Linked DNA regions of Homo sapiens. The protein of the gene in region 1 purifies or fractionates together with the protein of each later gene. This does not show direct contact. Each region holds a gene or a part of one and is shown in the gene's direction. Other genes may lie near its edges.

Region 1 (7,150 bases):
TTAATGGTATCTTCAAAAGGACACCCAAATAATCCATCACTCAGATATATCTCTGAGTAGAGAAAATGCCTCTTTCTTTCTCACCTCTCAGTGATATTATTGCATCATGAAGCACTCAGTATGCTTTAAGTTTATGGCTGGTTGGCTCAGGACACATACCGTGGTGTTAATGAGGCTGGGGTCATGGAGGCCCGTTAGCTTTGCTCTGTTTGCTGACCACAGACTACCGGGAAATCAGTCAAGAGATGCTAGCACAGACAAGAACGGCACCATGGCAAAACCTCAGTAGTTCTCAGTTTTTCCTCCCCATACAACAGGCAGGATGTGTTAGTTGGGCGTCATCATCTCAAGGAGGAAATGAGTAGCAGCTTGGGAGGCCCCAACCTTTAACTCTGAACAAAGCAGGCCTGACATTTAGGCATTAACTTTGCATTATAATCCCCCATCATACCATTGATTTGCTGTGTAACCTTCATCACTAAAGCAGAGATAATAGGATAGAATGAAATGGGCTTACCTCCCGGAGATGTTGTGTGAATTAGCAAATTAACGAGTGTAAAGTGTTAGCATTTATGTAAGTGCTGGTGGTTGTCATTATTTCTAGGGACCTAGTCTCATTCTAAATAGAGAATCTAAGTATATTATGCTTTTGTCAGAAAGGGATTTTCACCCCACATCAATTGCATTTAAGCTGAGCATAAAACAGAGGTGATAATAACATAGTAGTGATCATTGCAATGCAGAGCTGTAAACCTTTTCCCTATTAAAGCTAGAACTATTTTCAGCAACTTTCAATGCTTTTAAACTTTGTTTTCCAAGTTTTGTTATCTCTATAATAATTATTCTTCCTGTGATGGGTGGTGGGAATGGGACCTGGAATAGGTCCTATTCATTATTCATTCCCATGATGACTATATAATATATTGAATTTTTTTACATCATACAATCAAGCAAATTTGGTAGCTAGTGTGATTGCCACATATTGCAATCATTGTAAAAAATAAAAACTCTTTTCTGCTCTGCCTATGCTGGTGTCCTCTAGAGGTAGCCAACATACAGATTGAAAACTCATGGGGAATTGAAGTGCTTTCCAACAAAAGGTGCTGTATATAGATCTTTTCAATTTAACATCTTTACCAAAGAATTTTGTTGTTGCCTGCTATTTCCAAGGGGACTGTGCTTGAGAGACTGCTTCCATTTCTTTTATCACTCTGACTTCGCTTACCAAGAAAAGTCATTTATTGCTGATTGCAGAACTCTTGAACTCAGCCGGGCAGCTGCCGCATGAACTCCTCAGATCTGAGTTCCTTGTTACTTATTTACATTTTCATTTGAAGTGATTTTTCAGGACTATTTGAAAACCTTTCTCAACCTAACATCATGTAATAGCAAAGATCTAAAACTTACCATGCTTTTGGTCCTTTTTCTGTTTGTCTTACAGATAACAGACGAGTACCTTTGGAAAGGTCACGCTCTCGCCACAATGGAGCTATCTCATCTAAGTGATTCCTGATGCCAAAGAATATGAAAATATTTAAGTAAAAACAAAATGATGCATTTTGAGAAGAACAAAGTGTGCACTCAGCGGCTGGAAAGGAAATAAGTGCATTTCTGCAAAGATCAAGATAAGCTGGATGAAGTAGTGTGCATTTGTAATACTATTGCAAGACTCCTCCCACAATTATTCTAATCTGAACACAGTTATCAGGATTACAAAATGTGTTCCATTTTAGTGTAAAGATGTGTATCATTTGTAATTGTGTGTGACCTGACTGTGATGATGGAAGTGTAAGAAATTGAAGAGTTCTAAGGCTTTCAAAAACACTCAGTCAAAAATTTAAAATCTTAAATGTGTAAGTCACCCCCACCAAAAACAAAAGAGAAGAAAAAGAATAGAAAGAATTATCCAGTGTCAGCTTCCAATCCCTAGTACATATATAATAGAAAAGGGCCAAGAAAAATATGCATCTTGATTTGGAGAGAGGCTAATATTATGCACACTGTAAGAGAAGCCATTTTGGAAATTCACGAAAGTACTGCTCCACCCCAGTTGAGTTATTTAGAATTTTATCTCAAGTGAAAGCTGATGGATTCATCTGCTTTGGCTGAAATTAAACTTATCATTAGTCTAGCTAGCATTTCAGCATGATATTGCAAGCACTTCTCATTGCTAAAAATAAATAAACCAAAGTTTAACCGAATCAGTTAGGGAAAGTGATTTAAACTTTATTTAAAGAGGTATTTTCTAATTATGCACAGATATCTACTTTATACAAATACTTTATATGGCTATTTTTGAGAAAACCCTCACATTTTAATGTTTATGCTAGGGATGAACCTGAAAATTCTATTACGTTTATTTAGATTTCAAAGGCAAATATTGATTCCTATGCTCTGTGGTTTATTTCTTTTTTCTATTGCTTCTTTCTCCCTTGAGTCCCTTGAAGGCAGGGAATAGACTTCTAGAAAACCTGAGAGGAAAAAGAATTCTTTTTACAGGAGGCAGCAGAAAACTGTCTGAAAGGTCAATTGTTTTATCTCCCTTTCCACTCTCTTTCCAATTTCACTTTGGTGGTCTGAAGAAGAAAAAGAAATTTTATGTATGTATGTGTAAATATGTGTATATATTTCTATCTCTTGCTACAATAATTCCAACTAAGTGAACTTCTCAATTATCATCATACTTACTTACCTTATATTAACAAATTAAGATGATGCTGCCAAAACAAGTCTAGCAGGGAAAACAGGTTCTACATTTTTCTTAAATAAATTAGGGAGTAAAAGTTATACTTAACTTGTCTGTCTATTATTTTAAAATATGCATTGAAATAATGTGGTATAACTTCTCTGGAGTGCAATTTTAAGTCTAATTCATGCAGATGATTGATTGTGATTATTGTAAGAAATTTCTTACATGTATATTTCTTATGTAGAAAATACTGTTTCTACTCATTCAAAGCACATTGTAGATATTCAGAGAGAAGAACAAATGGCTGGCTTGGCAAATCCCCATCTGAGATAAAGTAAACAAGTGACCAGCAGCCCACAGATGATTCCTTTATATAGATGTATAATGATTCAAACTGCTGCCTTTGCCTCCAGTGCATCCTTACTTAGGTATTATACTTCTTTAAAAAGCTCTGAAGCTGCTACAATAGAAAAATCAAAAAGGGTAACAGTATCTGAAATTTCACAGTCCTATCCGATCTGAAAACACACATACACAAATGCACACACATGCACACACACATTTAAGGGACATAGCAGTAACACTGTTTTTTAACAACAACAAAAGTTTAGGTTCTAATTTATGTAAATACCTAGTATGTGTATTTTTGACTTTACAAAGTCTTTCTTTTCTGAAATCTTCGTGGTATGGCTTTTTTAATTCTTTTGACAGCTTATCAGTCTGTAGGAGAATGATCTTGAAATGTTAACCCTGACTAAAATTTGGGAGCATATGCCTTGCTATATTATCAAGCTGGTCAAGGTAGAAATACTGATATGTATCATCACCTTTTCCAGATACAAACTTGCCTTATTTTCTAGTTTGTGAACAAGAACGAATGAAGTACTATTATTGATAACTTATATATTTTTATTTAGAGCAATCCCACATGCTTTTCACAAACATTAAAAAAAAAAACCTTTCAGGGTCTTTCATGAAGTTCCAATAGTTGAGTGAGTTAAAAGGTTTGTTTCCCAGATTTGTAATGGTCCTGCTCTAGCCATTTGCAGTTTTGTTTTAGATGATTGGAAAGTATATCACCAAAAAAAGTATATAGTGACATTTTTAGTATGAAACCAAATTACACTAAGGTCTTTTGTTGGCCATATTACTGCCACACATGAGAAGCACCATTTATGCAGATTTTCTTCAGAATATTTTTAAAAGGTACAGAATCCTTAAAATATTAACAACTAATTGCATCCATCATCTCCTTTGGCTGCTGTAACAAATTACCACCAATAATATGATGGCTTAACACAACAGAAACTTATTTGCTTACATTTTTGAAGGGCAGCAAAGCCATGCTCCCTCCAGAGGCTCTAGAGGAGAATCTTTCCTTGCCACGTCCACCTTTTGGTGGCTATTGGCATTTTTTGGCTTATGGCCACATTTCTCTTTCTGCTGTGTCTTCACATCACCCTCCTCTGTATACCTAATCTGCCTCTGCCTCTGTTTAATAAGGATCCTTATGATGACTTTTAGGGACTACCCAGATTACTCCAGGATAATCTCCTCACCTCATGAGTCTTAACTTAATTACATCTGCAAGGCCCCCTTCTCCAAATAAGATAAATTCATGGTTTTGGGGATTAGGATGTGGCTATGTCTTTTAGGAAGCCACTCTTAGCCCACCAGAGTCTGCCCTTTGGCCCAAAATTTATGTCTGTCTCATGTGTAAAAGACATTCATCCCATCCTAACATTACCAAAAGTCTCAACCCATTATATCAATCCTAAGTCCAAAATTTCATTCAAATATCATCGGTTCAAAAGTTCCAAAGCTTATCATTTAGATCATCTAAATCAGGTATGAGTGAAACTCTGGGTATGGTCTTTCCTGAGGCCAAATTCCTCTTCCTCTGAGAACCAGTGAAACAGAAAAGTTAATCTGCTTTCAAATTACAATGGTGGGAACAGGCATAGGATAACAGTTACAGACATTTCTGTCTCAAAAAGGAGAGAATGGAAATTGGAATGGAGTCTCCTGTCCCAATCATTTTCAAAATCTAGCCAGGCAAATTTCTGTTATATTTCAAGGCCTGGCAGTAATCCTCTTTCTCAGGGCTCCACCCTTTGGGCCTGTAGCTCTTCTTTCTTGGACTATGGATTGGGCCTCTGCCTCTGTGCCTATGGGTTGCACTTCTTCCTCTGTTCCCACACTTGGGCCTCTGCCTCTGTACCTGCAGCTCTGCTCTCGGGATGGTGCTTCCTTTATCTTGAAGGGTGGCACATGTTTGCAGCTGAGAAGTTTTATCAACGGGTTTCCTACCTGTAGAATTCTGGCAGTCTCACAATCTTCTTTCATTTTTTTCTGTCTCTGTCCCTTTTAGGCCCAGTTGGAAGTGTTTCTGATGGTAGAACATTCTCAAAAATCTTGTGGGTCTTCTACGTATGTCACATTGATTCACACATTCAGAAAAGAGGGTCCTCACAGATTTTTCCTGAACAACCCCATCTCTATTCTTGGCTTCTGTTGAAACAGTCAAATAAATCCACAAGTTAATGCCTAACCTCTTCAGCACTAGCCAAAGGTTGTCAAGACACACCCTTGGGCTTATCTACAGAGCACACTTTTCTAACAGTGAATCTCCTAATTTTAGCATCTTTTTTTTTTTTTACAATCATTCAGATTGTGAATTCAGGCTCAGAATTTACCCAGTCATCAGATACTGATTCCTTTTGTCCACTTATATAGTTATTTTCTCTTTAAAAAAAAATTTTTTTTAATGTATTAGAGATGAGGTCTCACTCTGTCACCCAGGCTGCAGTGTAGTGGTGCAAACATAGCTCCCTGTAACCTCAAACTCCCAGGCTCAAGGGATCCTCCTGCATCAGCCTTCCAAGTAGCTGGGTCTACAGGTGCATGCCACCATGCCTGGCTAATTTTTTGCATTTTTTTGTAGAGACTTGATCTTGCTATGTTGTCCAGGCTGCTCTCGAACTCCTAGCCTCAAGCAATCCACCCATCTTGGCCTCCTAAAGTGCCGGATTACAGGTGTAAGCCACCATGCCCAGCCTGTTTTGTCAATGTATCTGTTTTCTGTCTTATTTTACTATAAGCACTAAGAAGAAACTAAGCTATATCTCTAACACTAGACTTGAAAATTTCCTCAGCTAAACATCCAAGTTCATCATTTATTCAACTTTTCACACTACTGTAGTAGACAATTTAGATAGATAAACTTTTTGCCACTATATGACAAGGATTCCCTTTCTTCCATTTTCCAATAAAATCTTCATTTCCTTCTAAACCATCACTAGAAATGCCTTTAACATTCATACTACTACCATCTGGTAAAGGCAATCTAGTTTTTTCTATCACAGCCACCAAAATTCTTCTAGTCTCTACCCATTATCCAATTCCAAAGCCTTTTTCACATTTTAAGACATTTGTTACAGAAGTACCCAATCCGTCCCAGTTCCACAATCTGCATTAGATTCCCATGGCTGCTGTAACAAATTACCCTCTAGCCCAGTGGCTTAAAACAATAGAAATTTATTATCTTGTTGTTTTGGAGGCCAAAAGTCCAAAATTGAGGGGTTGGCAGGGCTGAACGTCTTCTGGAGACTCTAAGGGAAACACTCTTCCCGTGTCTTCCAGTTTCTTGTGGCTGCCATCATTCCTTGGTTTGTGACTGCATCTCCCTCTCCTCTGTCTTCACATCACTTCCCCTCTGTATATATAATCTACCTCTGCCTCTCTCTTATAAGGACACTTGTGACGGGACTTAGGGCCCATCCAGATTACCCATGATAATTCCCTTATTCCAAGATTCTTAATTATATCTGAAAGGACCTTTTTTCCAAATAAGGTACTATCACAGGTTCCAGGGAGTAGGATATTGAATATCTTTTTTGGGGAGGGGGCACCATGCAGCTCACTACACTATTCATTGCACACAAATGAATTTTTCACTTTTTAAGATGCATTCTTGGTGCTCAAACCAGATCGAAGTTTGTCTCTAAAAGCTATTGTCTGCACAGGCTGCTGCATGCTCTGTTGTTAAATGGATGGACAGGCTATTCTAAATTTTGGTTGATACTTTTGCTACTATGGGCAATTAACTTGAAAAAAATAATCGATCCCAACTCTGTGCTCTGATGTACCTCTTCTGCCCCTTTTATGACACCTTTGACCAAATGCCTTCTATGGTTCACAGTGCAGGCACAAAACTACCTCTGATACAGAAGGGTTCTTTACAAGCTTATTTTACATACCGTGAATCCCTCACCTAAAGGGAGAGGTGAAAGCAAAGACTGCTTTGAATGGGTATTGAGGGAGATTGTGTCCATACCAAGCCACCCTGAAGAAGTATTTCACTTGCAGTAGAACTGTGGATTTGTGCTGTCATTTCACCTTGGAATAAACACCTATCTCTAAGCAGGACCAAGAATGACTTGCAATCTATATGTAATGGCT
Region 2 (5,821 bases), on another chromosome or scaffold:
GGTAGGTACTGGGGGGCAGGGAGGCATAGCCCCCATAGCCAGGCCACTCCACTCTGCCACCCACCCTCGACCCAGCTGACTGTCAGAGCTTGGCAGGCCCAAAATGATATTGATTCCAGAGCTTTTGGTGTATATATGGGGAAACTGAGGCTCAGAGTGGGGCAGTGGCTTGCCCAGGGTTGCTGGCACAGGGATTTGGTGGCAGCGTCTGCCCTTCTGACTCCCAGTACAGTGCTCCTTGCCTACCCTATGCTGCAGACTCCGAACACTGTGGCTCTTCCCACGGCGGCTCTGCCTGAGGTTGCTGGGTGAGCCAGAGGCTGCTACATCTCCCCAGCCTGTGCCCGCCCAAGGTGCATGAACAGTCAAGTCAGAGTCCAGCAGCTCTGCGTGGCTGCTGGTTCTCAGAGGCTGCTCATGGGCATCAGGGATGTGGCCCCTTGAATTCCTCTGCTCCAGCTGCCTTTAGCCATGGCACAGCCCCTCACCCACTGCTGCCAGGGCCTCCGAGTTTCCGCAGGGTACAGCCCATGACAGTATTTGCAACAACAACAACAACGGTGACAATTTTAAGGACTGACCACGTGCCAGGCAGTGTTCTTGGTACTTGCATGTATTTACTCATTTACTCCCCCGGCCAACCTTATGGAGTATTATTATTCCCGGATCCAGTCACTCGTCCAAAGATACACATCTATTAAAGTGGTAACACTGGGATTTGAACCCAGGCAGGCTGCTCCGCCCATTCATTCAGAACGAATGATTGAGCACATTCGTTCTGGTGCTGTTCTGGGCATTGGGTACCAGGAGAGATGGTGGTGCCTGGGGCCAGGGTGCTAGCAGTGGGGGTGACGAGAAGGGGGCTGATTCTGAATCGGTCTAGAAGGCGGAGTTTGCTGATGATCAGAGTTTCTTGTTGGATTGGATGTGGGTGGGAGGGAGGAGTTTTTTTGTTTGTTTGTTTGTTTTTTGAAACGGAGTCTTGCTCTGTCACCCAGGCTGGAGTGCAGTGGCGCCATCTCGGCTCACTACAAGCTCTGCCTCCCAGGTTGATACCATTCTCCTGCCTCAGCCTCCTGAGTAGCTGGGACTACAGGCGCCCGCCACCACGCCCGGCTAATTTTTTGTATTTTTAGTAGAGACGGGGTTTCACCATGTTAGCCAGGATGGTCTTGATCTCCTGACCTCGTGATCCGCCCGCCTCGGCCTCCCAAAGTGCTGGGATTACAGGCGTGAGCCACCACGCCCAGCCTGGGAGGAGTTTTTACCAGAGCAGCTGGAAGGTGGAGTTGCCCTTGGCCAAGATGACAAGGAGCAAGCTGGGTTCGGGAGTGGGACATCCTAGTGGAGGTGTCCGGCAGGCAGTGCGATGCATGCGTCTGCAGTTCCTCCGAGCAGGCAGTCCAGCTGGGCAGCCTAAATGCAGCTGCACATTTAGAAGCTACGGGTGCAGTAAAGCCTGGGGGAGGCTGCCCAGGAAGGGAGAGCAGCTAGAGGAGAGGAAAGACCACAGGCTGAACCCCAGGGAGAGGAGGAGGAGGGCAAGGCCCCATAAGACCTAGGAGAGCCAGGAGAGTGGGGTCCTGGGGTGAAGTGCAGGCTCAGTCAGGTAGGAGGGAGTGATGCCCAGGGTCGGGGTTATCGAGGGATCAGTAGGAGCAGGGCTAAGGATTCTCTGATGGTGGCCGGGTGCGGTAGCTCACGCCTTGTAATCCCAGCACTTTGGGAGGCTGAGGAGGGTGGATTATTTGAGGAGTTTGAGACCAGCCTGACCAACATGGTGAAACCCCGTTGCTACTAAAAATACAAAAATTAGCCGGGCGTGGTGGCACATGCCTATAACCCAGCTACTTGGGAGGCTGAGGCAGGAGAATTGCTTGAACCCGGGAGGCGGAGGTTGCAGTGAGCCAAGATCGCACCACTGCACTCCAGTCTGGGCGACAGAGCGGGACTGTCTCAAAAAAGAGAGGATTCACTGCTGGGTTCAGTGGGAGCCACCAAGGAAACCTTTCTCATGGGCAGTTTCGGTGGATGCGGGGGTGTGGGGAATCTGCCAGGGACCCCACAAAGGCCCCATTTGCTTCCAGGAATGAGGTAGTTTGATGCCAATTTTTGTTTGTTTGTTTGTTTGTTTGTTTTGAGACAGAGTCTCACTCTGTCTCCCAGGCTGGAGTGCAGTGGTACAATCTGGGCTCACTGCAACCTCCACCTCCTGGGTTCAAGCGATTCTCCTGCCTCAGCCTCCCGAGTAGCTAGGATTGCAGGCTTGAGCCACCAAGCCCGGCTGATGCCAATTTTTATCAGGCAAGTTTCATGCCCAAACCAGCCGACTTCAGCCGACTTAGTGCTCCTGGAGATAGGAAGCCCCCTCCCGGGATCCCCGGCTCCCCAGCTGTAGTCCAGGCTGAAAGAACTCGGCCCTGGTGGCCTCACATTCTGCAGAGCAGCCCTCCCTCCACCAGGCAAGCAGTTGAGGCAGACAGCTGCTGCAACCATTTTGTGAGCAGATTTATTTATTTATTATTTTTTTGAGACGGAGTCTCACTCTGTAGCCCAGGCTGGAGTGCAGTGGCTCCATCTCAGCTCACTGCAACCTCCGCCTCCCAGGTTCAAGCGATTCTCCTGCCTCAGCCTCCAGAGTAGCTGGGACTACAGGTGCACGCCACCACGCCCAGCTAATTTTTGTATTTTTAGTAGAGACGGGGTTTCCCCTTGTTGGCCAGGCTGGTCTCGAACTCCTGACCTCAGGTGATCTGCCTGCCCTCAGCCTCCCAAAGTGCTGGGATTACAGGCGTGAGCCACCGAGCCCGGCCTGGATTGATTGATTTATTTTTATCTTTTTAATTGATTTATTTATTTATTTTGAGATGGAGTTTCACTCTGTCGCCCAGGCTGGAATGCAGTGGCGCGATCTCAGCTCCCTGCAACCTCCGCCTCCCAGGTTCATGCCATTCTCCTGCCTCAGCCTCCCGAGCAGCTGGGATTACAGGCACCCGCCATCATGCCCACCTAAATTTTGTATTTTTACTAGAGACAGGGTTTCACTGTTGGCCAGGCTGGTCTCAAACTCCTGACCTCAGGTGTTCCACCTGCCTCAGGCTCCCAAAGTGCTGGGATTACAGGCGTGAGCCACCACACCTGGCCCAGATTTGTTTTTAAAGGATCCCTTACTTCCTTATATGTTTTGCTCAGTTTGGTGGGTGTCCATGAGGGCCCTTACCCTGCAGAGAGGAAAGATTCTAGAACGGCAGGAGCAGGGTTCTGAGCCCCACCCCCAGGCTCAAATCCTGCCATTTCCAGCCAAGGCCAAGTTACATCGCCTTTCTGTGCCTCAGTTACCGCACCTGTACAGTGGGATTGGTTGTGAACTTGCTGCCACGGCCTCGGGGAATTAATGGGTCCATACGTGTAAATTCTTAGATGAGGTTCTGGTACCAAATAGTTTCTCCCTAGGTGCTGGCTTTGCTGATTATCCATATCAGAGCTCAGGCTGGGGAGCAAGAGAGTGGTCCACTGAGAGGGCCAGAACTCTCCAGGGCTCACACATGCCCCCCACATGCCCCCTCGCCCCCCTGCAGTGGTACCCAGAAGTGAATCATTTCTGCAAGAAGGTACCCATCATCGTCGTGGGCTGCAAGACTGACCTGCGCAAGGACAAATCACTGGTGAACAAGCTCCGAAGAAACGGATTGGAGCCTGTGACCTACCACAGGGTAGGAAACCCAGCCCGAGGTGGGAGTTGGGGAGGACTGAGTGAGGGGACCTCTGGATGCCTCTCAGTGGCACCAGGTGTCCAGAACGCTCAGGGTGTAGGTCAGAGCTGCGGTCGTCTTAGAGGCTGTCAGAGGTCAGAAACTTCCAGCACTTAGAAATGGTCCCTAGAATATTCTGGGAGCCTCCACAGGCAAAAGGGAGAACAAGGAAGTAGGCATATCAGAGTCAGTTCCACCACCAACCTGAGACCCAGAGAGGGGGCCCAGGCAGGCACCCACATATTCAGACCGTGGGTCCCTCTCTGCTACACGTCTGGGTTCATGGGAAGTTCATTTCTTGGTGCCTTGAGAGGCAAAGAGGCCCAGAACGGAGGTTAAAAACAACGAAGGCTGGCAGGGCGCAGGGGCTCACGCCTGTAATCCCAGCACTTGGGAGGCCGAGGTGGGTGGATCACTTGAAGTCAGGAGTTCGAGACCAGCCAGGGCAAAATAGCGAGACCCTGTCTCTACCAAAAATACAAAAAATTAGCCAAGTGGTGTGGTGGCGGGTGCCTGTAGTCCTAGCTACTCTGGAGGCAGAGGCAGGAGAATCACTTGAACCCGGTTGGAGGAGCTGCAGTGAGCTGAGATCGCACCACTGCACTCCAGCCTGGACGACAGAGCAAGACTCCGTCTCAAAAAAATAATAATAATAAAAATAAAGAAAAGAAAAACAAACATGATGAAGTGCATGAGGGCGCTTGGGCAAGCAGGGATACGGGAGCCATGGGTGCTCCGCAGACCCCACCTTCCACTCTTGTCCGGGAAAAGGAAGCGAGAACGTGAGGCCTGCCCAGTGCCCCCTTCACCGCAGCCCCATCCACCTCTCCCTCTAGGGCCAGGAGATGGCGAGGTCCGTGGGCGCGGTGGCCTACCTCGAGTGCTCGGCTCGGCTCCATGACAACGTCCACGCCGTCTTCCAGGAGGCCGCCGAGGTGGCCCTCAGCAGCCGCGGTCGCAACTTCTGGCGGCGGATTACCCAGGGCTTTTGCGTGGTGACCTGAGCGGCTCGGGGCGTCCCAGCGACGCGGGAAGGGGCAGGGCGCTGACCTGCTGCTGAGCTGGCTGGGCTGGACCCGGTCCCTAGGCTGTGACCGCCGAACTCCACTGCAACAGACGGGCGCCACCAAAGCCAGGCCCTGAGGCCTGGGAGTCCTGGACTGAGAAAGGGGGTTCCTGGGCCCACCTGCTCTGTGTAGGGCTCGTCCTGCGGTGCCCGAGAATCACTCGCTAACCCCTATGCCCGGTCCCGGACCGACATCCTGGAGCCGCCTGTGCAGCCTGATGCCCCCTCGTGGCTGCTCCCAGGGCTGCACCTGCCAGGACCTAATGTTCTTAGGTCCCTCTGGCCAGAACCCACACCCGGCCCCTTCCCACCTGTCATACTGGTAACTGTAACAAGAAAAACGACATCACTTATCATTGTGTCGTGCCTCTTTTTTCTGTTTTCTTTTTTTTGAGACGGAGTCTCGTTCTATCGCCCAGGCTGGAGTGCAGTGGCGCATTTCAGCTCACTGCAACCTGTGCCTCCTGGGTTCAAGCGATTCTCCTGTCTCAGCCTCCTGAGTAGCTGGGATTACAGGCGCGCGCCACCACACCCGGATAATTTTTGTATTTTCTTTAGCAGAGACGGGGTTTCACCATGTTGGTGAGGCTGGTCTCGAACTCCTGACCTCATGATCCACCCGCCTCGGCCTCCCAAAGTGCTGGGATTACAGCCATGAGCCACCACGCCCTGCCTATGCCTCTTGTTTCAAGGTGTCTTTACACACACGTTCCAAGGTAGGTAAAAGCCCACCCCATCTAGGCACTGGGATGGGACTGCTTGGATCCAAACCAGCTTTATTGCTTCCACGACCTTGGGCAAGTTCTTCTGGGCCTCAGCTTCCTCACCTGTGAAATGGATCACAGACTAAGCCATGGAACTTTCGGATGAGTAAGAGGGTCATGAGGACCAACACACGCAAAGAGCTTAGTAGGTGCCTAGCACGCAGTAAGTGCTCACAAAAGGTTCGGCCAGGGCCGAGCACAGTGACTCATGCCTGTAATCCCAGCACTTTGGGAGGCCG

The links.
Region 2: the proteins of DIAPH2 (region 1) and RHOD purify together in Homo sapiens (co-immunoprecipitation; 3 studies listed by BioGRID and IntAct, with this or other methods). This does not show direct contact.

The regions. Positions count from the first base shown.
Region 1 is NC_000023.11:97,597,812-97,604,961, forward strand, and holds part of DIAPH2 (protein diaphanous homolog 2), read left to right. Parts: intron 1-1,441; coding exon 1,442-1,506; 3' UTR 1,507-7,150. UniProt on the Homo sapiens protein: Could be involved in oogenesis. Involved in the regulation of endosome dynamics.
Region 2 is NC_000011.10:67,066,847-67,072,667, forward strand, and holds the end of RHOD (rho-related GTP-binding protein RhoD), read left to right. Parts: coding exon 1-1; intron 2-3,578; coding exon 3,579-3,713; intron 3,714-4,588; coding exon 4,589-4,756; 3' UTR 4,757-5,171; downstream 5,172-5,821. UniProt on the Homo sapiens protein: Involved in endosome dynamics. May coordinate membrane transport with the function of the cytoskeleton. Involved in the internalization and trafficking of activated tyrosine kinase receptors such as PDGFRB.